7 linked regions of the Homo sapiens genome follow. The protein of the gene in region 1 purifies or fractionates together with the protein of each later gene. This does not show direct contact. Each region holds a gene or a part of one and is shown in the gene's direction. Other genes may lie near its edges. The genes, in order: RABGEF1, BIRC2, HGFAC, OTUD5, TAX1BP1, VTI1B and UBR1.

The links.
Region 2: the proteins of RABGEF1 (region 1) and BIRC2 purify together in Homo sapiens (co-immunoprecipitation; 3 studies listed by BioGRID and IntAct, with this or other methods). This does not show direct contact.
Region 3: the proteins of RABGEF1 (region 1) and HGFAC purify together in Homo sapiens (affinity purification with mass spectrometry; 2 studies listed by BioGRID and IntAct, with this or other methods). This does not show direct contact.
Region 4: the proteins of RABGEF1 (region 1) and OTUD5 purify together in Homo sapiens (affinity purification with mass spectrometry; 2 studies listed by BioGRID and IntAct, with this or other methods). This does not show direct contact.
Region 5: the proteins of RABGEF1 (region 1) and TAX1BP1 purify together in Homo sapiens (co-immunoprecipitation; 3 studies listed by BioGRID and IntAct, with this or other methods). This does not show direct contact.
Region 6: the proteins of RABGEF1 (region 1) and VTI1B purify together in Homo sapiens (affinity purification with mass spectrometry; 2 studies listed by BioGRID and IntAct, with this or other methods). This does not show direct contact.
Region 7: the proteins of RABGEF1 (region 1) and UBR1 purify together in Homo sapiens (affinity purification with mass spectrometry; 2 studies listed by BioGRID and IntAct, with this or other methods). This does not show direct contact.

What each region holds. Positions count from the first base shown.
Region 1 is NC_000007.14:66,806,666-66,809,357, forward strand, and holds part of RABGEF1 (rab5 GDP/GTP exchange factor), read left to right. Parts: intron 1-1,172; coding exon of another isoform or gene 1,173-1,211; exon of another isoform or gene 1,212-2,220; coding exon 2,221-2,619; 3' UTR 2,620-2,692. UniProt on the Homo sapiens protein: Rab effector protein acting as linker between gamma-adaptin, RAB4A or RAB5A. Involved in endocytic membrane fusion and membrane trafficking of recycling endosomes. Stimulates nucleotide exchange on RAB5A. Can act as a ubiquitin ligase.
Region 2 is NC_000011.10:102,371,160-102,374,735, forward strand, and holds part of BIRC2 (baculoviral IAP repeat-containing protein 2), read left to right. Parts: intron 1-3,576. UniProt on the Homo sapiens protein: Multi-functional protein which regulates not only caspases and apoptosis, but also modulates inflammatory signaling and immunity, mitogenic kinase signaling, and cell proliferation, as well as cell invasion and metastasis.
Region 3 is NC_000004.12:3,447,465-3,450,050, forward strand, and holds the end of HGFAC (hepatocyte growth factor activator serine protease isoform 2 preproprotein), read left to right. Parts: intron 1-27; coding exon 28-167; intron 168-430; coding exon 431-571; intron 572-663; coding exon 664-812; intron 813-1,772; coding exon 1,773-1,955; 3' UTR 1,956-2,022; downstream 2,023-2,586. UniProt on the Homo sapiens protein: Serine protease that hydrolyzes the inactive zymogen hepatocyte growth factor (HGFsc) to an activated disulfide-linked heterodimer, then initiating hepatocyte growth factor receptor signaling pathway.
Region 4 is NC_000023.11:48,924,015-48,926,632, reverse strand, and holds part of OTUD5 (OTU domain-containing protein 5), read left to right. Parts: intron 1-582; coding exon 583-786; intron 787-2,580; coding exon 2,581-2,618. UniProt on the Homo sapiens protein: Deubiquitinating enzyme that functions as a negative regulator of the innate immune system. Has peptidase activity towards 'Lys-48'- and 'Lys-63'-linked polyubiquitin chains. Can also cleave 'Lys-11'-linked ubiquitin chains (in vitro).
Region 5 is NC_000007.14:27,795,604-27,799,179, forward strand, and holds part of TAX1BP1 (tax1-binding protein 1), read left to right. Parts: intron 1-512; coding exon 513-616; intron 617-3,576.
Region 6 is NC_000014.9:67,657,597-67,661,172, reverse strand, and holds part of VTI1B (vesicle transport through interaction with t-SNAREs homolog 1B), read left to right. Parts: intron 1-1,250; coding exon 1,251-1,442; intron 1,443-3,576. UniProt on the Homo sapiens protein: V-SNARE that mediates vesicle transport pathways through interactions with t-SNAREs on the target membrane. These interactions are proposed to mediate aspects of the specificity of vesicle trafficking and to promote fusion of the lipid bilayers.
Region 7 is NC_000015.10:43,095,985-43,099,560, reverse strand, and holds part of UBR1 (E3 ubiquitin-protein ligase UBR1), read left to right. Parts: intron 1-3,576. UniProt on the Homo sapiens protein: E3 ubiquitin-protein ligase which is a component of the N-end rule pathway. Recognizes and binds proteins bearing specific N-terminal residues that are destabilizing according to the N-end rule, leading to their ubiquitination and subsequent degradation.

The sequences.
Region 1 (2,692 bases):
TGGAGTCTCCCTCTGTCATCCAGGCTGGAATGCAGTGGTGTGATCTCAGCTCACTGCAACCTCCGTCTCCTGGGTTCAAGTGATTCTCATGCCTTAGCCTCCCAAGTAGCTGGGATTACAGATGTGTGTCACCATGCCCGGCTAATGTTTGTATTTTTAGTAAAGACGGGGTTTCACCTTGTTGGCCAGGCTGGTCTCGAACTCCTGACCTCAAGCAATCCACCCACCTCAGTTTCCCACAGTGTTGGGATTACAGGCATGAGCCACCGCACCTGGCCTCATATTTCTTAATATAAATGAAACATACACTTGCCTACGAGGGAAGAGCGTTTTGGATTCAGTTCTTTATCCAAAGCGAGTCAGACAACCTGGAAGTCCCTGAGAAGTGTGAAGGTGGAGACATGGCAGGTATTGAGAGAAGTGGAGGAGGACCAGGACGTGTTTGAGCGTAGCCACGGTCACTGACAGTAGAGGTGGCTGGCTTGCACACACTTAGCAGCTTCTAGTGCCCTTGGCCTGCAGCCTTAAGTACATTTGTGCCTTCTCTCTTTGTCCTCTTCTTGCCTGACTCAGAGTCTGTCTCCTACACCCATTGCTCCAATGAAACTGCTCTGGCAAAAGTAAAAAGTTTCCAGCTGACGAACCCCACGGGCACTCACAGTCTTCATCTTCCTTCGCTTCTCATAGCACTCTCCAAGAGTCCTTTGTTCTGCAACTTCTGTTGTTCCTTGGCTTCCACAATTCCACTACTTCCTTGTCTCTTTGTAAAGTCTGTGTCTTCTACTTCCACCTTGAATTGTGTCATTCCATGGGACTCCATTGTCTCTGCATCTCTCTTCCTGCACCATCTTCTCTGTCACAGAGCTGTCACTCACTGTGCAGTGATGGCCTGCAGCTCTGGGTCACCTGTCTTGACCTTACACTTGTATTGCACCTCAAATATAATTTGTTCAGAGCTACTTCCCCTTCAGATGTTTGTTTCTTTTCCAGTATTCTCTATTCCTTTTAGTGGCAATGCCATGTCTCCATTCACCTAAGTGAGGAGTTAGAATCACCTCCTCTTTCCAGGTCACAGAGGGGCCACAGCAACTCCACACACACCATGAGCCAGATGGTGTTCCGTTCTACTCAGATGAATCAGATTTTTCTTTTTCTTTATTCCTTTTTTCTAGAGATGGTTTCTACCCCGACTGTTTCCCAGGCTGGTCTGAACTCCTGGTCTCAAGCAATCCTCCCACCTCGGCCTCCCAAAGTGCTAGGATTACAAGCACGAGCCAACACGCCTGGCTCAGATGTCTGTTGAATTGGGCATTTGCAGTGCCATGTCTGTACTAATAATTGCTACCGTGTATTCATTGCTCGCTGCAGGCCTCTCGGAAGCACGTGACATGTTATGTTGTTTAATTCTCACAATAAATCTAGGTGGTATTTCCCCCCATTTACAGGTACAGAAACCTCAGAGAGCTTAAGTAACTTTCCCACGGTCACTCACTGTTGTTGTTAAGTGAAAGAGGTGACAGTGAACTCAGGTTCAGTCACTTCAGAGTTGTTCCTTTTTTTTTTTTTTCCTGAGACAGTCTTGCTCTGTCACCCAGGCTGGAGTGCAGTGGCGTGATCTTGGCTCACTGCAACCTCCGCCTCCCAGGTTCAAGCAATTCTCCTGCCTCAGTCTCCCAGGTAGCGGGGATTACAGGCGCCCACAACTGCGCCCAGCTAATTTTTGTATTTTTAGTAGAGATGGGGTTTCACCATGTTGGCCAGGCTGGTCTCAAACTCCTGACCTCATGATCCACACGTCCCAGCCTCCCAAAGTGCTGGGATTACAGGCTTGAGGCACCGGGCCCGGTCTGGAGCTGTTCTTTTAACCACTTGATGTTAAAATATTCATTTGAGGATCAGAGGTCTGTGTGCCACACCTACTTGGGGACTATATCCTGGGTGGGGATAGCAGGTCTGGGAAGACTCAGACAGAATGGCTTCATGGTGCACCTGGGGAGGCTGCACCCAGACATCGGCCCTGGAGCTCCTGGGAGTGTATAGGAAGCACGACCGGGGATAGGAGTAGGTAATTTTTGAGGCTGAAATACACAGAAGTTCATGAGTTTGTTTTGTTTACTTTAGCTTCTGTTTTAAATGGTCTGTGATCAAAAGATTTTTACAAATCGACTCGAGTATGCATAGCTTTCCTAATATGACTGTATTAACGTCCTCTTCTTGTAGTGCTGTGCTGTGGCTTTCATTGAGAAGCTAGACGCCCAGTCTTTGAATCTAAGTCAGGAGGATTTTGATCGCTACATGTCTGGCCAGACCTCTCCCAGGAAGCAAGAAGCTGAGAGTTGGTCTCCTGATGCTTGCTTAGGCGTCAAGCAAATGTATAAGAACTTGGATCTCTTGTCTCAGTTGAATGAACGACAAGAAAGGATCATGAATGAAGCCAAGAAACTGGAAAAAGACCTCATAGATTGGACAGATGGAATTGCAAGAGAAGTTCAAGACATCGTTGAGAAATACCCACTGGAAATTAAGCCTCCGAATCAACCGTTAGCAGCTATTGACTCTGAAAACGTTGAAAATGATAAACTTCCTCCACCACTGCAACCTCAAGTTTATGCAGGATGATCACAATTTAGTGGAGAGTATTTATTTGAGCCTAAATTGTAGGTAGCCCTTACTACACTCAACTGATTGGGAT
Region 2 (3,576 bases), on another chromosome or scaffold:
CCTTCTCCTGCCTAATTGCCCTGGCCAGAACTTCCAACACTATGTTGAATAGGAGTGGTGAGAGAGGGCATCCCTGTCTTGTGCCCGTTTTCAAAGGGAATGCTTCCAGTTTTTGCCCATTCAGTATGATATTGGCTGTGGGTTTGTCATAGATAGCTCTTATTATTTTGAAATAGGTCCCATCAATACCTAATTTATTGAGAGTTTTTAGCATGAAGGGTTGTTGAATTTTGTCAAAGGCTTTTTCTGCATCTATTGAGATAATCATGTGGTTTTTGTCTTTGGCTCTGTTTATATGCTGGATTACATTTATTGATTTGCGTATATTGAACCAGCCTTGCATCCCAGGGATGAAGCCCACTTGATCATGGTGGATAAGCTTTTTGATATGCTGCTGGATTCGTTTTGCCAGTATTTTATTGAGGATTTTTGCATCAATGTTCATCAAGGATATTGGTCTAAAATTCTCTTTTTTTGTTGTGTCTCTGCCCGGCTTTGGTATCAGAATGATGCTGGCCTCATAAAATGAGTTAGGGAGGATTCCCTCTTTTTCTATTGATTGGAATAGTTTCAGAAGGAATGGTACCAGTTCCTCCTTGTACCTCTGGTAGAATTCCGCTGTGAATCCATCTGGTCCTGGACTCTTTTTGGTTGGTAAGCTATTGATTATTGCCACAATTTCAGATCCTGTTATTGGTCTATTCAGAGATTCAGCTTCTTCCTGGTTTAGTCTTGGGAGAGTGTATGTGTTGAGGAATTTATCCATTTCTTCTAGATTTTCTAGTTTATTTGTGTAGAGGTGTTTGTAGTATTCTCTGATGGTAGTTTGTATTTCTGTGGGATCAGTGGTGATATCCCCTTTATCATTTTTTATTGCGTCTATTTGATTCTTCTCTCTTTTCTTCTTTATTAGTCTTGCTAGCGGTCTATCTATTTTGTTGATCTTTTCAAAAAACCAGCTCCCGGATTCATTGATTTTTTGAAGGGTTTTTTTGTGTCTCTATTTCCTTCAGTTCTGCTCTGATCTTAGTTATTTCCTGCCTTCTGCTAGCTTTTGAATGTGTTTGCTCTTGCTTCTCTAGTTCTTTTAATTGTGATATTAGGGTGTCAATTTTAGATCTTTCCTGCTTTCTCTTGAGGGCATTTAATGCTATAAATTTCCCTCTACACACTGCTTTGAATGTGTCCCAGAGATTCTGGTATGTTGTGTGTTTGTTCTCATTGGTTTCAAAGAACATCTTTATTTCTGCCTTCATTTCGTTATGTACCCAGTAGTCATTCAGGAGCAGGTTGTTCAGTGTCCATGTAGTTGAGTGATTTTGAGTGTTTCTTAATCCTGAGTTCTAGTTTGATTGCACTGTGGTCTGAGAGATAGTTTGTTATAATTTCTGTTCTTTTACATTTGCTGAGGAGAGCTTTACTTCCAACTATGTGGTCAATTTTGGAATAGGTGTGGTGTGGTGCTGAAAAAAATGTATATTCTGTTGATTTGGGGTGGAGAGTTCTGTAGATGTCTATTAGGTCCACTTGGTGCAGAGCTGAGTTCAATTCCTGGGTATCCTTGTTGACTTTCTGTCTCGTTGATCTGTCTAATGTTGACAGTGGGGTGTTAAAGTCTCCCATTATTAATGTGTGGGAGTCTAAGTCTCTTTGTAGGTCACTCAGGACTTGCTTTATGAATCTGGGTGCTCCTGTATTGGGTGCATATATATTTAGGATAGTTAGCTCTTCTTGTTGAATTGATCCCTTTACCATTATGTAATGGCCTTCTTTGTCTCTTTTGATCTTTGTTGGTTTAAAGTCCGTTTTATCAGAGACTAGGATTGCAACCCCTGCCTCTTTTTGTTTTCCATTTGCTTGGTAGATCTTCCTCCATCCTTTTATTTTGAGCCTATGTGTGTCTCTGCACGTGAGATGGGTTTCCTGAATACAGCACACTGATGGGTCTTGACTCTTTATCCAATTTGCCAGTCTGTGTCTTTTAATTGGAGCATTTAGTCCATTTACATTTAAAGTTAATATTGTCATGTGTGAATTTGATCCTGTCATTATGATGTTAGCTGGTGATTTTGCTCGTTAGTTGATGCAGTTTCTTCCTAGTCTCAATGGTCTTTACATTTTGGCATGATTTTGCAGCTGCTGGTACCGGTTGTTCCTTTCCATGTTTAGTGCTTCCTTCCGGAGCTCTTTTAGGGCAGGCCTGGTGGTGACAAAATCTCTCACCATTTGCTTGTCTGTGAAGTATTTTATTTCTCCTTCACTTATGAAGCTTAGTTTGGCTGGATATGAAATTCTGGGTTGAAAATTCTTTTCTTTAAGAATGTTGAATATTGGCCCCCACTCTCTTCTGGCTTGTAGGGTTTCTGCCGAGAGATCCGTTGTTAGTCTGATGGGCTTCCCTTTGAGGGTAACCCGACCTTTCTCTCTGGCTGCCCTTAACATTTTTTCCTTCATTTCAACTTTGGTGAATCTGACAATTATGTGTCTTGGAGTTGCTCTTCTCGAGGAGTATCTTTGTGGCGTTCTCTATATTTCCTGAATCTGAACGTTGGCCTGCCTTGCTAGATTGGGGAAGTTCTCCTGGATAATATCCTGCAGAGTGTTTTCCAACTTGGTTCCAATCTCCCCATCACTTTCAGGTACACCAATCAGACGTAGATTTGGTCTTTTCACATAATCCCATATTTCTTGGAGGCTTTGCTCATTTCTTTTTATTCTTTTTTCTCTAAACTTCCCTTCTCGCTTCATTTCATTCATTTCATCTTCCATTGCTGATACCCTTTCTTCCAGTTGATCGCATCGGCTCCTGAGGCTTCTGCATTCTTCACGTAGTTCTCGAGCCTTGGTTTTCAGCTCCATCAGCTCCTTTAAGCACTTCTCTGTATTGGTTATTCTAGTTATACATTCTTCTAAATTTTTTTCAAAGTTTTCAACTTCTTTGCCTTTGGTTTGAATGTCCTCCTGTAGCTCAGAGTAATTTGATCGTCTGAAGCCTTCTTCTCTCAGCTCATCAAAGTCATTCTCCATCCAGCTTTGTTCCGTTGCTGGTGAGGAACTGCGTTCCTTTGGAAGAGGAGAGGCGCTCTGCGTTTTAGAGTTTCCAGCTTTTCTGTTCTGTTTTTCCCCCATCTTTGTGGTTTTATCTATTTTTGGTCTTTGATGATGGTGATGTACAGATGGGTTTTCGGTGTGGATGTCCTTTCTGTTTGTTAGTTTTCCTTCTAACAGACAGGACCCTCAGCTGCAGGTCTGTTGGAATACCCTGCCGTGTGAGGTGTCAGTGTGCCCCTGCTGGGGGGTGCCTCCCAGTTAGGCTGCTCGGGGGTCAGGGGTCAGGGACCCACTTGAGGAGGCAGTCTGCCGGTTCTCAGATCTCCAGCTGCGTGCTGGGAGAACCACTGCTCTCTTCAAAGCTGTCAGACAGGGACACTTAAGTCTGCAGAGGTTACTGCTGTCTTTTTGTTTGTCTGTGCCCTGCCCCCAGAGGTGGAGCCTACAGAGGCAGGCAGGCCTCCTTGAGCTGTGGTGGGCTCCACCCAGTTCGAGTTCCTGGCTGCTTTGTTTACCTAATCAAGC
Region 3 (2,586 bases), on another chromosome or scaffold:
ATGCAGCCTCCAGCCCCCCTTGCACAGCCCCCCCAGGGACAGCGTCTCCGTGGTGCTGGGCCAGCACTTCTTCAACCGCACGACGGACGTGACGCAGACCTTCGGCATCGAGAAGTACATCCCGTACACCCTGTACTCGGTGTTCAACCCCAGCGACCACGACCTCGGTGAGCTCCGGCGTGTCGTGGCTGCACTCTGGGCAGGTGGGCCCTGTGCTCCCCAGGCCAGGCCCAGACAGGGGCAGGAGCTGGGCAGACATGTGGTGCGGGGGAAGCTGGGGGCAGGGCAGGGAGGACAGGGCACCGCTCCCTTCTGGATCTCCCAGGCTGCCCTGTGGACCCCACTGGCTACCCTCCCTCCACCACGGGCCCCGACAGCCTCCCGTTCAGCCCGCACACCACAGGCTGACCCTGGCCACTCTTCTGATCAGTCCTGATCCGGCTGAAGAAGAAAGGGGACCGCTGTGCCACACGCTCGCAGTTCGTGCAGCCCATCTGCCTGCCCGAGCCCGGCAGCACCTTCCCCGCAGGACACAAGTGCCAGATTGCGGGCTGGGGCCACTTGGATGAGAGTGAGTTGGGAGGGGGGCGCCCAGCGCCCCGCCAGGGTGGACAGTGGCCAGCCACAGTGTGGGTGTCACGCTGAGGGCATTGTGTCCCACAGACGTGAGCGGCTACTCCAGCTCCCTGCGGGAGGCCCTGGTCCCCCTGGTCGCCGACCACAAGTGCAGCAGCCCTGAGGTCTACGGCGCCGACATCAGCCCCAACATGCTCTGTGCCGGCTACTTCGACTGCAAGTCCGACGCCTGCCAGGTGAGCTGGTGCCCGCCCCACCAGGACCCGACTGGTGGGGGCTCAGCTGGTCCTGAGTCTCCGAGATGCTTGCCCCTGGGGAGCCCAGAGCCTGGCGGCACCCCAACCTGGCAGGGCCAGCCAGGGACCCCTGGGCAGGGAGCACACTTACTGTCGGTGGCCAGCACCCCAGGGCCACCCAGAGCCCTGCCGGAAGGGCATCCTCCTCACACAGAAGGGGAGACCCAGGCTCTGAGAGGGGCCTGGGGTCCCACAGAGCCCGGACAGTTCCTGGCTGTCCAGCCCAAGGCAGTGCTTTCCGTGTGACACTAGGCACCAAAGGCCCCTTTGCCCCGAGTTCTCTCAAGCCAGCTCTTCAACCTTCAATAAGTTCTTCAACCTTCAATAAGCCCAACAGCCCAACCACGTCCTGGGCTCTGCAGGCCTGTGTGCTCAGGCGGCACGGCAACCCTGGCATGCGACGGCTCTCTTATGCCCCATTTTATAGCTGGGGAGACTGAGCCCCAGGCAGTCAATTCACTCTTCCAAGGCCACAAAGCCCAGGAGTGGTAGAGTGGGTAGGGCTTGTCACTGGACCTCGATAAGGGAAGTCAGGATGGTTTCCTGGAGGAGGGAGTGTTTGCACTGGTCCTGAGTGATGCGTAGGAGTTTTCCAGGGAGTGAAGAAGTCATTTCAGGAGGTGCTGGGACACAGGGTGGCTGTGTGGTCCACACAGGGTTCATGCTGGTGGGGAGAGGGGGACCGTGGCTTCAGGAAGGGGAATAACGTGGTTGGATGCCCTGGCCCAGCCAGTGCTGCCCCCAGGGAATGAGACACCTTTTCATGAGGTTCAGGAGAGTGGATCAGCTCCCTTGCTCAGAAATGCCTTTGTCCTCTGTCCCCAAGCTGCCACTTGGGGGAGAGGGGGGTCCCTGAACCAGGCCCCTGGGAGGGTGGCTCTGACCAACGTCTCTGCCCAGGGGGACTCAGGGGGGCCCCTGGCCTGCGAGAAGAACGGCGTGGCTTACCTCTACGGCATCATCAGCTGGGGTGACGGCTGCGGGCGGCTCCACAAGCCGGGGGTCTACACCCGCGTGGCCAACTATGTGGACTGGATCAACGACCGGATACGGCCTCCCAGGCGGCTTGTGGCTCCCTCCTGACCCTCCAGCGGGACACCCTGGTTCCCACCATTCCCTGCCTTGCTGACAATAAAGATATTTCCAAGAACCCGGCCCACGCTGCCTGGCCCCTGCCTGCGGCCCCGCCTTCCCCTCCAGGCCATGACTGGGGCCCAGGTCTATGCGCAGCAGGCCTCAGGCTGCCGTTCTGGAGCGCACACAGTCCTCAGTGGAGACGGAGCCTGTGGCCCCACAGCGGGGTCTGGCCCCACGGCCCAGAGAGTTGTCAGGGGATGAGGTCTGGGCCTCTCCAGGCCCCAGCAGAGTCCAGCCCCCTCCCAGGCCAGCCCCAGGCCGGGGCTCAGCACCTGGGTTGTCCCAGGGCAGGAAGTGGAAACCAAGTCCAGGCCCCCAGGCGTGGAGGGGTCCGATCCGCGTGGTGCACGGAGTATTGAACCTGAAGAAGAAAGAGCGGCCCCACGGGAACACCCGCAGGCCGTCGTTGGTCTTCCAGATGGCAGCCCGCCTGCCTGAGCCTGGGCTGCACTTCCCGGGAGGGAGGAGGCCACAGGCTGCCTCTGTGGGGGCTGAGGGAGGGAGGGGCCCATGTGCTAGATGGGGCCCAGTTAGAGGGTCACTGCTGGGCAGGCAGAGGCCGTACCCTCCCTCCAGC
Region 4 (2,618 bases), on another chromosome or scaffold:
ACCTATAATCCCAGCACTTTGGGAGGCCGAGTCGGGTGGATCACCTGAGGTCAGGAGTTCAAGGCCAGCCTGGCCAACATGGTGAAACCCCATTTCTACTAAAAATACAAAAAAGTTAGCCGGGGGTGGTGGCACTCACCTGTAATCCCAGCTACTTGGGAGGCTGAGGCTGGAGAATCCCTTGAACCTGGGAGGCGGAGGTTGCAGTGAGCCGAGATTACCCCACTGCACTCCAGCCTGGGCGACAGAGCGATACTTCGTCTCAGAAAAAAAAAAAAAAATAAGTCCCAGGTTGGAAGGCACCTGACTGCTCCAGTCTCAGTGCCTCAGTTGAGGTGGTTTGGGGGTTAGAGTCAGGTCTTACAAGCATAGGAGTTTGGAATGACAGGTCCCACATCCCAAGCCTGCTTTCCCTTGGTCCCCAATCAAGAGGTAGTCTGTGGAGTGTTGCTCTTTGGGAGTACCTGCTTTCCTGTCTCCTTTTTTTTCTGGGGCCTGTGGGCCTACCTCGCTGAGCCTGTTCTGGCTCTTGGGCAGGTTCAGTGTGTTATTGCACATCCCTGTTCCTCTCCCTCCTTGCAGTTTGCAGAGCAGTCTCTGATGAAGAATGCCATAAAAACATCGGAGGAGTCATGGATTGAACAGCAGATGCTAGAAGACAAGAAACGGGCCACAGACTGGGAGGCCACAAATGAAGCCATCGAGGAGCAGGTGGCTCGGGAATCCTACCTGCAGTGGTTGCGGGATCAGGAGAAACAGGCTCGCCAGGTCCGAGGCCCCAGCCAGGTGGGTCATGGACTCTGTCACAGGCTTGGCCAAAAACTCATTACTTCTCATGCTTTGCCCTCAAGCGAGCAGAAAAAAATTAAGCAGTTTTGACATCTGGGAGGGAAGGAAGCATCCAGCACCATCTGTAACTCATCTTGGTCTTAGTTTTGGCATTGTACCTTGGAACTTTAAATACTTGTGCAGAACAGGCACTTAAGGAGTGAGAGGAGGGCAGCCATGCTGCTGGTGACACGAGAATAATGGATAGCTTCAGAGACACAAGCTTTTGTTGACTGCCCTTGTGTGCCAGGTCTCTACTGAGAATGTAACATCAGATCTGGACTACTCTGCCCTCAACGATCTCGTCTGTTGGCAGAGACAACTCAATGGTGGGGTCCTTGACCCTGACTGGGAGATCAGTGGAGGTGGGGGCTCCGGTTAGTCTTCACAGAGGAAGGTTGAATTGTTAGGGGAGCGGGGAGGGGCGGGGCAGACAAGCATCTGAGGAATTGTAAAATCGCAAGGAGTTTGGAGTGATTGTAGATGTTGGCTGGCAGGAGCTGAGTTTTTTTTTTTTTTTTTTTTTGGAGACAGAGTCTTGCTCTGTCGCCCAGGCTGGAGTGCAGTGGCGCAGTCTCGGCTCACTGCAAGCTCCGCCTCCCAGGTTGATGCCATTCTCCTGCCTCAGCCTGCGGAGTAACTAGGACTACAGGCGCCCACCACCACGCCTGGCTAATTTTTTGTATTTTTAGTAGAGACGGGGTTTCACCGTGTTAGCCAGGATGGTCTCCATCTCCTGACCTCGTGATCCGACCACCTCGGCCTCCCAAAGTGCTGGGATTACAGGCGTGAGCCACCGCACCCGGCTGAAGGAGCTGAGTTTTATTCCACAAATACCTACTACCAGTCTGTGGCAGGCCCTGTTTTCAGTATATGGGGATACATAGGTGAGCCCAGCAGACCAAGATCCCCGTCCTTGTGATGTTCACAGTTTTGCAGAGTGAAATAAAATAATAAATATAATGAATAAATTAGTTGGGAAGTGCTATGGATGGAAAGTGTAGAGCCAGGATAAAGGGGCTGAGCAGGAATGTGCGTTCACGGTATGAAATAGCGCAGTCAGGGTAGGCCTCAGAGCAGGTGAGATTTGAGCCTTGCAGAAGGTGAGAGTTAGCTGAGCGCACATGGAGGGGAGGACAGCAGGCCCACACACCTGGTACAACTCAGGCACAGCCCAGAGGGAGGCCGGTGTATCCGAACAGAATGTAGTAGTAGATGAAGTCAGAGAGGTTGTGGGTCCAATTGGGTAGGGGCTTGTGGGCTGTGGCGAGGACTTTGGCATTTACTCTCAGAGAGGCAGAAACCATGGGAGGATTGTGAGCAGAGGACGGACAGGATGTGGTTGGGGATTTAATAAGATCGCCTTGCCTGCTAGTCATCCAGTGGAGTCTGGTGAGTGAGGGCAGAAGCAGGGGCCAGTGAGGAGGAGGCTACTGCAGTAGGCCAGGTGACTGGTGGCCAGTGCTGGCAGTGGAGTTGGTGAGAAGGGGTTGGATTTGAGATCTATTTTCAAGATAGAGGTAACAGGGTTTCCTGTCAGATTGGCTGTAGGGGTGTGAGAGAAAGGGTAAGGAGCTCCACCTCTGTCCTGTGAGGAGTCTTGTGGTCCACCGTGTGAGTGGGGATGATGTTGACCTACATAGAAGCTGTATCATAGCCAAGGTCCTGGGAAGGGAGCCAGCATTCAGGGATGGGTCACAAGAAGGTCATGGCTGCTGGTGGTCCTTAACGCATTTACCTTCCCCGCTGCAGCCCCGGAAAGCCAGCGCCACATGCAGTTCGGCCACAGC
Region 5 (3,576 bases), about 39 Mb from region 1:
GTGCAGTGGCGTGATCTCAGCTCCCTGCAGCCTCTGCCTTCTGGGTTCAAGCAATTCTCCTGCCTCAGCCTCCTGAGTAGCTGGGACTACAGGTGTGTGTCACCACGCCTGGCTAATTTTTTGTATTTTTAGTAGAGACAGGATTTCACCGTGTTAGCCAGGATGGTCTCGATCTCCTGCCTCGGCCTCGACCCGCCTTGGCCTCCCAAAGTGCTGGGATTACAGGCATGAGCCACCGTGCCCGGCCGCTTTTTAGCAAATTTTTAAAAAATCAAAGAATAATCCTTTATTATTGAATGCGAACTTGGTTCTGGCCAAACACACATTTAACAATTCTCAACTAGAGTTTATATATCCTTCTTTGTATATCTAGGATATGAATAGATATTTCTGTCCTTCAGCATTCCATTTACTATATTTTACAGTATACTGACCTTTAAGTTATTCTGAACAGGAAGATAATATAAGGGGCAAAATACTTTTTAACAGTCTTATATTCTGCCTTTCTACAGCAGAGGCAGATTTTGACATAGTAACAAAGGGGCAAGTCTGTGAAATGACCAAAGAAATTGCTGACAAAACAGAAAAGTATAATAAATGTAAACAACTCTTGCAGGTAAGTTAACTACCTTGTAAGTGAAAGAGATTTATAAAATGTTAATGACTTAGCTTACCTTTATTGTTTCAATTGATTGGTATCTTTGAGTTTCTTTTCCATCTCCATATAGTGTTACTTAGTTTCACTTTGGCTTTTGGGATGATGAGGTGGGCGTTTTGTGTACCTGTTCACATAGGCGTGTGTGTAGCATCATGAGACCTAAAGTTACTATTTTCTTTTCACCTAATAAAATGTTCTTGTTTGGGTAATGGGCAAATAGTTAATTGAGGTTAGAAATTATCTGTCATCGTATAAAGATGCATGAAAAATATTTGAACTTCATAAAAGGGAAGTGCTGTTTTTAAATTTACTATTATCGGCCAGGTGCGGTGGCTCACGCCTGTAATCCCAGCACCTTGGGAGGTCGACGTGGGTGGATCGCTTGAGGCCAGGAGTTCGAGACCAGTCTGGCCAACATGGTGAAACCCTGTCTGTACTAAAAATACAAAAATTAGCCAGGCTGTGGTGGAGCATGCCTGTAGTCCCAGCTACAGTCTCCTGAGGCAGGAGAATCACTTGAACCCGGGAGGCGGAGGTTGCAGTGAGCCGAGTTTGCACACTGTACTCCAGCCTAGGCAACAGAGCGAGTCTCTAAAAAAAAATAATAAATAAAATAAATTACTATTATAATAGCAAAGATTTTTACATCTTAAAGTGACTAGACTTGCATAGTGGAAAAGGGAATGTTAACCAAATGAATTGTCTCTTACGGTGTTTATTTTGATTATTATTATTTTATTTTATTTTTTTTTTTGATACGGAGTCTCACTCTCTCGCTCAGGCTGGATTGCAGTGGCGTGATCTCAGCTCACTGCAATCTCCGCCTCCTGGGTTCATGCCATTCTCCTGCCTCAGCCTCCCAAGTAGCTGAGACTACAGGCGCCTGCCACCACACCCAGCTAATTTTTTGTATTTTTAGTAGAGGCGGGGTTTCACGATGTTAGCTAGGATGGTCTCTATCTCCTGACCTCGTGATCCACTCGCCTCGGCCTGTCAAAGTGCTGGGATTACAGGCATGAGCCACCGCGCCCGGCCTATTTTGATTATTTTAAACAGCTTCATTCAGACTTTTCTGGTTTGCAGCCTTCTTGGTGTAGTATTCAGTACTGGAATATTTAAAGGAAAAGGGAAAATGCTTCTCATTTATATCAATTTGGCATAGAGAGGAAAAAGTGTTGTTTGTGCAAGTGATTTTTGTTTGTTTTTTTAAATGTGCTTTGTGTGTTTTTGTGTGCATTGGGGAGGGGAGGGGCATTTTTTAGAGCTATAGAATAAAATTTACACATTAGCTTCATGTTACTGTAATTTAATTTACAGTAATTATTTAAAATATTTTGTTGCTTATAAATAGCAAAATCTTTTAACCAAAGTTAAAATGAATTTTTTTTTTTGCTTGAGAGAATCCTGTGGAAGGGTTGATTAGAACAGTTTTACTCTTGAATTCAGGGTAGTTTTTTGTAAGAGTGAACTACATTTTCGTTAAAGATGAAACAATTCTGGATGAATATTTCAAGATTTTTCTATAGAAATAGTATTGAAAGGAAGATAGAATAATGTTCAAGCAAAAACCTTCCTCAGGGTGCTTTTTTTTTTTTTTAAACAACCATATTGAGGTATAATTGAAATCCAATGAATTGCACGTACCTAGAGTATACAGTTGGATCAGTTTTGACATACACAGTTGTGAAACTATCACCACAGTGCCATCACTCTCCCAGTTTTTTTGGTACCTGTTTGCAACACATCCCTTTCGTTATCCTTATCTCTAGGAAATTATTGGCCTGCTTTCTGTCACTATCAATTAGCCTACCTTTTAGACAATTTTATAAAATGGAGTCATGTAATATGTACTTTTTTCTACCCACTTTCAGCATGATTATTTGAGATTTATTCATATTATTGCATATATTTATTCCTTTTTTATTTTATCATTTGTTTATCCATTCACCACTTGATGGGTAGTTGGGGTTGTTTTTCGGCTGGTACAAATAAAGCTGCTTATGAACATTTGTTTAGAAGTTGTTTATGGACATATGTTTTTTTTTGTTTCTTTTGGGTAAATATCTAGGGGTGAATTGCCTGGGTGATATTGTAGTTGAATAACTCTGTAAGAAATTACCTCCTGGGTGCAGTGGCTCATGTCTGTAATCCCAGCACTTTGGGAGGCCGAGGTGGGAGCATCACTTGAGGTCAGGAGTTTGTGACCAGCCTGGCTAATATGGTGAAACCCTTTCTCTACTAAAAATACAAAAATTAGCTGGGCATGGTGGTACACTCCTGTAATCCCAGCTACATGGGAGGCTGGGGCAGGAGAATCGCTTGAACCCGGGAGGTGGAGGTCGCAGTGAGCCAAGACTGCACCACTGCACTCCAGCCTGGGTGACAGAGTGAGACTCTGTCTCAAAAAAAAAAAAAAAAAAGAAATTACCAAACTGTTTTGTAAGGTGTTTGTACCATCTTACATAGCCAGCCTAATGGGTGTGTACTGATAGCTCATTGTGGTTTTAATGTGCATTTGTATAATGACTTGATGTTGAGCATCTTTTCTTATGCTTATTTGCTCTTTATCTCTTTGTGTGAGTGGTCGAATCTTTTTGGTAGTTTAAATATAGGGTTGTTCATCTTGAGTTGTGTTTTTTTTTTTTCTGTATATGTCTTTTGTCTGATATATGTAAGGTGAATATTTTCTCCAAGTCTGTAGCTTGCCTTTTCATTTCCTTAATGATGTTTTTAGAAAAGCAAAATTTAAATTTTGATAAAGTACAGTTTATCAGTTCATTTATGTTTTATGCTTTTTACCTTCTAAGGAATGTTTGCCTAATCCAAGGAGATAAAGATTTTCTCCTGTGTTGTCTTCTAGAAGTTTTATAATCAGCTTTTCTATTTAGGTCTGTGAATCATTTTGAGTTAATTTTTGT
Region 6 (3,576 bases), on another chromosome or scaffold:
CGCAGAAATAGTTGGCCCTGTATTTGCTACCCGAGAGCAGATGGAGAAAAAATTCTCTTTTGGCCAGCGAACTTCCTTCTTGCTTGTTGAAGATCAGTGTTTCAATTTCCCACTTATCCCAATGAAGTTCTGAGAAGGAAGCACATCTGCATCCTTTTCTCTGTTTTGCATCTGTTTTAAGAAAGACCAGGCCACTAGACTGTGGGAACTATCTTCTTCCTAATGGGAGTACTGGGAGCTTTTCTTAATACCTGTGTACAGCTGGGCATATCCATGATACCTGTTTGTAGCCATTCTCCTGTTTCAGTTAATACCTTGGTAGCATTTTTAAAATCTTCTAGCTGCTACTGATTTGTTTGATGCTCAGATACTTGTTTTCTCCAAACTCAGCAAAAGTAATAATCCTATGCTGCCCATTCCAGGCAGATGAAAATAATTTAGGGCCTCTTGTGGATGTGTCCAGGTGTTACATTTTACTTACCCCAGAAAAATGGAAGTCTGATTCCCCTAAAGCAGACTGCTCTGGGTAGGCCCCTGTTCTCTCTGACATGGAGACAAACTTAATTGATTTTCAGAAAGAGGAGCAGGAGAAGGGAAGAACCCTGATGCCAGACCCCTATCATTTTTAATACAGTAGACTTCAAAGCACTTCTTGATGGCAATGTTCAATCATACCAGGCTAAAAACTTGGTATATTGAAGAGAGCTGAGAGAATTTGAAGATTTTGAATCCTGACTCCTTTTCTGTTTAATTTTTTATATATATATAGAGATGAGGTCTTGCTATGTTGCCCAGGCTGTGCTCAAGTGATCCTCCTGCCTCGGCTTCCCAAAGTGCCAGGATTACAGGTTTGAGCCACTGTGCCTGGCCCGGACTCCTTTTTGTGCGATCTTCAGAGGTTTCTTTAAGTCTTATATATGAAATGGAGCATTTCCTACCTTATTGATTTGTTGTGAGGATTAAATGGAGAATGTATATAAAAGTGTTTAGTAAGCTATAAAGTACTTCTGTTTTTCCATTCATTCATTCAGTTCATATACTCGAATGCCTGCTCTGTGCTTGCTGGGCACTATGCAAGGCATTCAGAATGAGGGGAACATGCCAGACATGGTCCCTGCCTCATGGAGCATATGGTTATTTACTTGGTGTAGTCCAAATAAATAAGTAGTTTGATTAGTCCAAACTAGGCATATTTCCAAATGAGTGAGGGAAGAACCAGGCTATCTGCTCACTACTTTCTGCCTTCCCAGCTGGCAGAGATGGAGGAGGAGCTACGTTATGCACCCCTGTCTTTCCGAAACCCCATGATGTCTAAGCTTCGAAACTACCGGAAGGACCTTGCTAAACTCCATCGGGAGGTGAGAAGCACACCTTTGACAGCCACACCTGGAGGCCGAGGAGACATGAAATATGGCATATATGCTGTAGAGAATGAGCATATGGTAAGTTTTAGCTGTTTTGTTTGTTTTTTTTTTCCTTTAAGGGCCTGTGGTACAAAAATTAACTATATTGTTGGGGTATTTCATGTTATCAGTGTATACTAGACTCTTGTTTCATTTTTTTCACCCTTATCCTCTTTTCTGCATCCAGTTCCTGTTACCCCTTGGTATCTGCTCTATTTAAGGCAGGCCTTTCGAACTATATGCATATTTAGATTTCTTTTTATCCTTAATATAATACAGTCTTATAATAAAAAAAAAACAGTGCTTTGTATGTAGTAGAATGTAAATGTTACCTATTCTTATTATCTGGATTCTGACTCATTGATCTAATTTCTTTTCTCCTTGATCTTTTTTATTCTCTCATATAAATTTTAGAATCACTTTCTCAGGTATGCCTGGAAAATTCAGTTAGGTTTCTAATTTATCAGAATATTGTTACAAAATCAATCCAAGCTTTCCTTTACCTTAATGTCAAGATGGCCCAGCAACTGAGATACAGTAGCCAATGCAGGGCGCTTCTCGAGAAGGAGCTTTTTATCATTTTATTCTGTGGTAATAGAAAGTGAGCAAGACTCCCTCTCTAGCTTTCAGGATTCTGATTTATAAAATTGGACTAATTGAACATCTGTATTCTGAAACCATCTAGAGCAGCTAGATCGTTAAAGGAATAAAACGTCTGAAAGATTAAATGTGCTGCATTTGGTCTGTCTTCCACAAACACAACACAAAGTAGAAATTCTCTGGCAAGTAGCATGGCAGAGAAATGGAAAGGGGCCCACCAGTGCAGACTGAAAGGCTCATACTACAATTTTAAACAAATCCTGTTTCACGATGCATCCTGATTATAGTTTAAGAGATATTCAGGATGATATTGGCTTGACATTGCTGATGCCAAAACTAGATCCCTTGAGAATGAAGTACTTAAAATTTTCAAATGGATGCGCGAGGGATTATCACAGATTAGAAGCTGACAGAAGATCACTTGTAAAGGGAGACTGGAAACAGGCAGGCAGGTGGAGCTGGTTAAAGTGGGAGTTGTAAAAGTGACTTTAGTCATGTTGCCAAAGTTGGGGAGGAAGTCCAAACAATTTTGCTTTAAAATTATGAGTTTCAGAAATTATTATTATTTTTTTTGAGACGGAGTCTCGCTCTGTCACCCAGGCTGGAGTGCAGTGGCGCAATCTCGGCTCACTGCAAGCTCCACCTCCCGGGTTCACTCCATTCTCCTGCCTCAGCCTCCCAAGTAGCTGGGACTACAGGCGCCCACCACCACGCCCGGCTAATTTTTTTTTGTACTTTTAGTAGAGACGGGGTTTCACCGTGTTAGCCAGGATGATCTCCATCTCCTGACCTTGTGATCCACCCGTCTCGGCCTCCCAAAGTGCTGGGATTACAGGCATGACCCACCACGCCTGGCGAGTTTCAGAAATTATTAAAACATAATTTAGGTATCCATACCTTCAGAAAAAGTATTGTTCCAAATCTGTCTGAAGTTCATTTATGTGATCTGATCTTTTCTTAGTCATTTTTTAGCCTACTCAGTTGAAAATCTGCATCTTTTATTTTGAAAACCTTTTTCCTTCTTCCTTTGCGCTAACCTAACTGGTTTTATTTGAACCTCATTCAGTGGTTTCCTCGTCTACTGGTCTGTATGCCATTTATTAAGTGAAAATGCTACAGAGCGCCGGGCACAGTGGCTTACGCCTGTAATCCCAGCACCTTGGGAGGCTGAGGCTGGTGGATCACCTGAGGTCAGGAGTTCGAGACCAGCCTGGCCAACATGGTGAAACCCTGTCTCTACTAAAAATACAAAAATTAGCTGGGCGTGGTGGCGGGTGCCTGTAATCCCAGTTACTTGGGAGGCTGAGGCAGCAGAATTGCTTGTGCCCGGGAGGCAGAGGCTGCAGTGAGCTGAGATCTTGCCACTCCACTCCAGCCCGGGCGACAGAGCGAGACTGTCTCAAAAAAAAAAAAAAAAAGAAAGAAAGAAAATGCTCCTTGCTACTTCTGTTCTGGGAGCCAATCTTTTGGCTCCTTGATGGTCCTACTGCCAGTGGTCACTTGCTCTGTACTAGGCCTCTGTGAGCTGGGTCCCTTTTGATTTTGGGTGTGTGTGTGTGTGTGTGTGTGTGCA
Region 7 (3,576 bases), on another chromosome or scaffold:
GTACCCATTTAAGGCGTTTCTTGGATAAATTTTAACAAATGTATATACTTGTGTGACTACCACCAAATCAGGTTATAGAATATTTCTGTTATTTCCCAAAGTTGTCTCCTGCTGAAATGGGAGGATTTTTTAAAAGTTTAATATTGTTATGGTTACGCAATAATCATTATGGAAATCAAAGAAAAATGTACCCATAATCTCATATCTGTAGGGGAACTTTTTTTTTTTGTTTTTTTGGAGACGTCACCCAGGCTGGAGTGCAGTGGTGCAATCTTGGCTCTCTGAAACCTCTGCCTCCTGGGTTCAAGCAATTCTCTTGCCTCAGCCTCCCGAGTAGCTGGGATTACAGGTGCACACCACCATGCCCACCTAATTTTTGTATTTTTAGTAGAGACGGGATTTTGCCGTGTTGGCCGGGCTGGTCTCAAACTCCTGACCTCAGGTGATCCACCCGCCTCAGCCTCCCAAAGTGCTGGGATTACAGATGTGAGCCACCGTGCCTGGGCTATAGGGGATCTTTAAAATACAACATAATCTCTTGACTTCAATATAGAAGTGAGGAGTTATATGTGATTTTAATTGGAGATGATTTTCCTTAGAAATTTGAATCTATATTGTTTTAGGCCAGAGCACAGTTTTGTGTAGTAAGGACACACTCTGAGTGGGAAAACTGATGAAAATGTAGGTCTTTTGAGTCTAACTGAAGTACTTTGTCACCAGATCTTAGCAAGACCTAATGGCTTTTGTTTTTTCACCATCTCATAATTTCTATTTTGGGGAGTTAGGGAAATTTTGATTTTTTAATGCCAGATTCTATAGAATTAGATGTGAAATTGAGTTCTAAAACTCTAAGTCAAAATGACTGATTCAGCCCCACTAACTAAGAGTCTAGGGAAGGAACAGTAACTTAGTGTAGATGTGCTAGTGCTGGAAACTGACTTCTTATAATACCAAACATCCTGCAAATGAAAAGGTTTTTGTCCTCAGTACTGCACAAAGAGTGTGTCTGGATAGATACTTTTATAAATCAGTGATACAGATGAACCAGTGAAATACAGGCATACCTTATTTTATTGAGCTTTATTATTGTGCTTTGTAGATAATCAGTTCTTTACAAATTGAAAGTCTATGGCAACCCTGTCTCAAGGAAGCCTTTCAGTGCCATTTTTTCAACATTGTGTGCTCACTTCGTGTCATTGTGTCACATTTTGGTAATTCTCACAATACTTCAAACTTTTTCATTATTATATCTGTTATGATGATCTGTGATCAGTGACCTTTGATGTTACTATTGTAATTGTTTTGGGGTGCCATGAACCACATCCATAAAAGACAGCAAACATAATAAAAAAAGCTGTGTTTGTTCTGACTGCCCCACTGACCAGCTACTTATCCATCTCTCTCCGTCTCCTTGGGCATCCCTATACCCTAAGATGGGACAATACTAAAATTAAGCCAGTTAACCCTACAATGGCCTCTAAGTATTCTAGTGAAAAGGAAAGTTCAACATTTCTCACTTTAAATCAAAAGCTAGAAATGATGAAGCTTAGTGAGGAAGGCTGTTGAAAGCTGACATAGGCCAAGAGTTATGCCTCTTGTGCCAAGCAGTTAGCCAAGTTGTGAATGCAGAGGAAAAGTTCTTGAAGGAAATTAAAAGTGCTACTCTAGTGAACAGACAAATAATAAGAAAGTGAAACAGCCTTACTGATGATGTGGAAAAAGTTTTAGTGCTCTGGATAGAAGATTGAACCAGCCACAATATTCCCTTAAGGCAAAACCTAATCAAAGAGCAAGGCCCTCACTCTCTTCAGTTCTCCGAAGGCTGAGAGAAGTGAGGAAGCTGCAGAAGAAAAGTTGGAAGCTGGCAGAGGTTGGTTCGTGATGTTTAAGAAAAGAAACCATCTCCACAACATAAAAGTGCAGCGTGAAGCAGTAAGTGCTGATTGATGGAGAAGATGCAGCAAGTTATGCAGAAGATCTAGCTAAGATAATTGATGAAGGTGGCTACACTAAACAGATTTTCCATGTAAACGAAACAGCCTTCTGTTGGAAGAAGATGCCATCTAGAGCTTTCATAGCTAGAGAGAAGTCAATGCCTGGCTTCAAAGGACAGGCTGACTCTCTTGCTAGCGGCTAATGCAGCTGGTAATTTTAAGTTGAAGCCAATTTCCATTTACCATTCAGAAAATCCAAGAATACTTAAGAATTATGCTACTCTGCGTATGTTGAATAAATGGAACTAGAAAGCCTGGATGACAGTACATCTGTTATAACATGATTTACTGAATATTTTAAGTCCACTGTAGAGAACTGCTGAGAAAAAAAAAAGATTCTTTTCAAAATATACTGCTTATTGACAATACATTTGGTCACCCAAAAGCTCTGATGGAGATATACAAGGAGATAAATGTTATTTTCATGCCTGCTAACACAATATCCATTCTGTAGCCCATGGATCAAGGAGTAATTGCAACTCTCAACTCTTACTATTTAAGAAACACATTTCATAAAACTATAGCTTTCATAAATTACGATTCCTCTGATAGATGTGGGCAAAGTCAATTGAAAAACTTTTGGAAAGGATTCAGCATTCTAGATGCCATTAGGAACATTCATAGTTTGTGGGAGGAGGTCAAAATATCAACATGAACAGGAGTTTGGAAGAAGTTGATTCCAACCCTCCTGGATGACTTTGAGGGGTTCAAGACTTTAGTAGAGGAAGTAACTGCAGATGTGGTAGAAATAAGAGAACTAGAATTAGAAGTGGAGGTTGAAGTTATGACTGAATTGCTGTAAACACATGATAAAACTTAATGGATGAGGAATTGTTTCTTCTGGATGAGCAGAGAAAGTGGTTTCTTGAGATGGAATCTACTTTTGGTGAAGATGCTGTGAACATTGTTTAAATAAGAACAAATGATTTAGAATATTCCATAAACATAGTTGATAAAGCAGCCGCAGAGTTGGCAAGGATTGACTCCAGTTTTGAAAGAAGTTCTGCCATTGGTAACATGCTATCACATGCTACAGAGAAATCTTTTGTGAAAAGGTCAATCAATGTGGCAGACTTCATGGTTGTCTTATTTTAAGAAATTGCCTGGCCGGGCGCGTTGGCTCACGGCTGTAATCCCAGCACTTTGGGAGGCCGAGGTGGGCGGATTGCCTAAGGTCAGGAGTTTGAGACCAGCCTGACCAACATGGTGAAACCCCATCTCTACCAAAAATACAAAAATGAGCCAGGCGCCTGTAATCCCAGCTACTCGGGAGACTGAGGCAGGAGAATTGCTTCAATCCGGCAGGCGGAGATTGCAGTGAGCCCAGATCGTGCCACTGCACTCCAGTCTGAGGGATAGAGTGAGACTCTGTCTCAGAAAAAAAAAAAAAAAGAGAGAAATTGCCATAGCCACCCCCACGTTTAGCAATCACCAACCTAATCAGTCAGCCATTAATATTGAGGGAAGATCCCCCTATCAGCAAAAAGATGACAACTTTCTAAAGACTCAGATGATCATTAGCATTTTTTAGCAGTATTTTAACATTAAGTACATTTTTAAAGACTTCATACTATTGCACTCT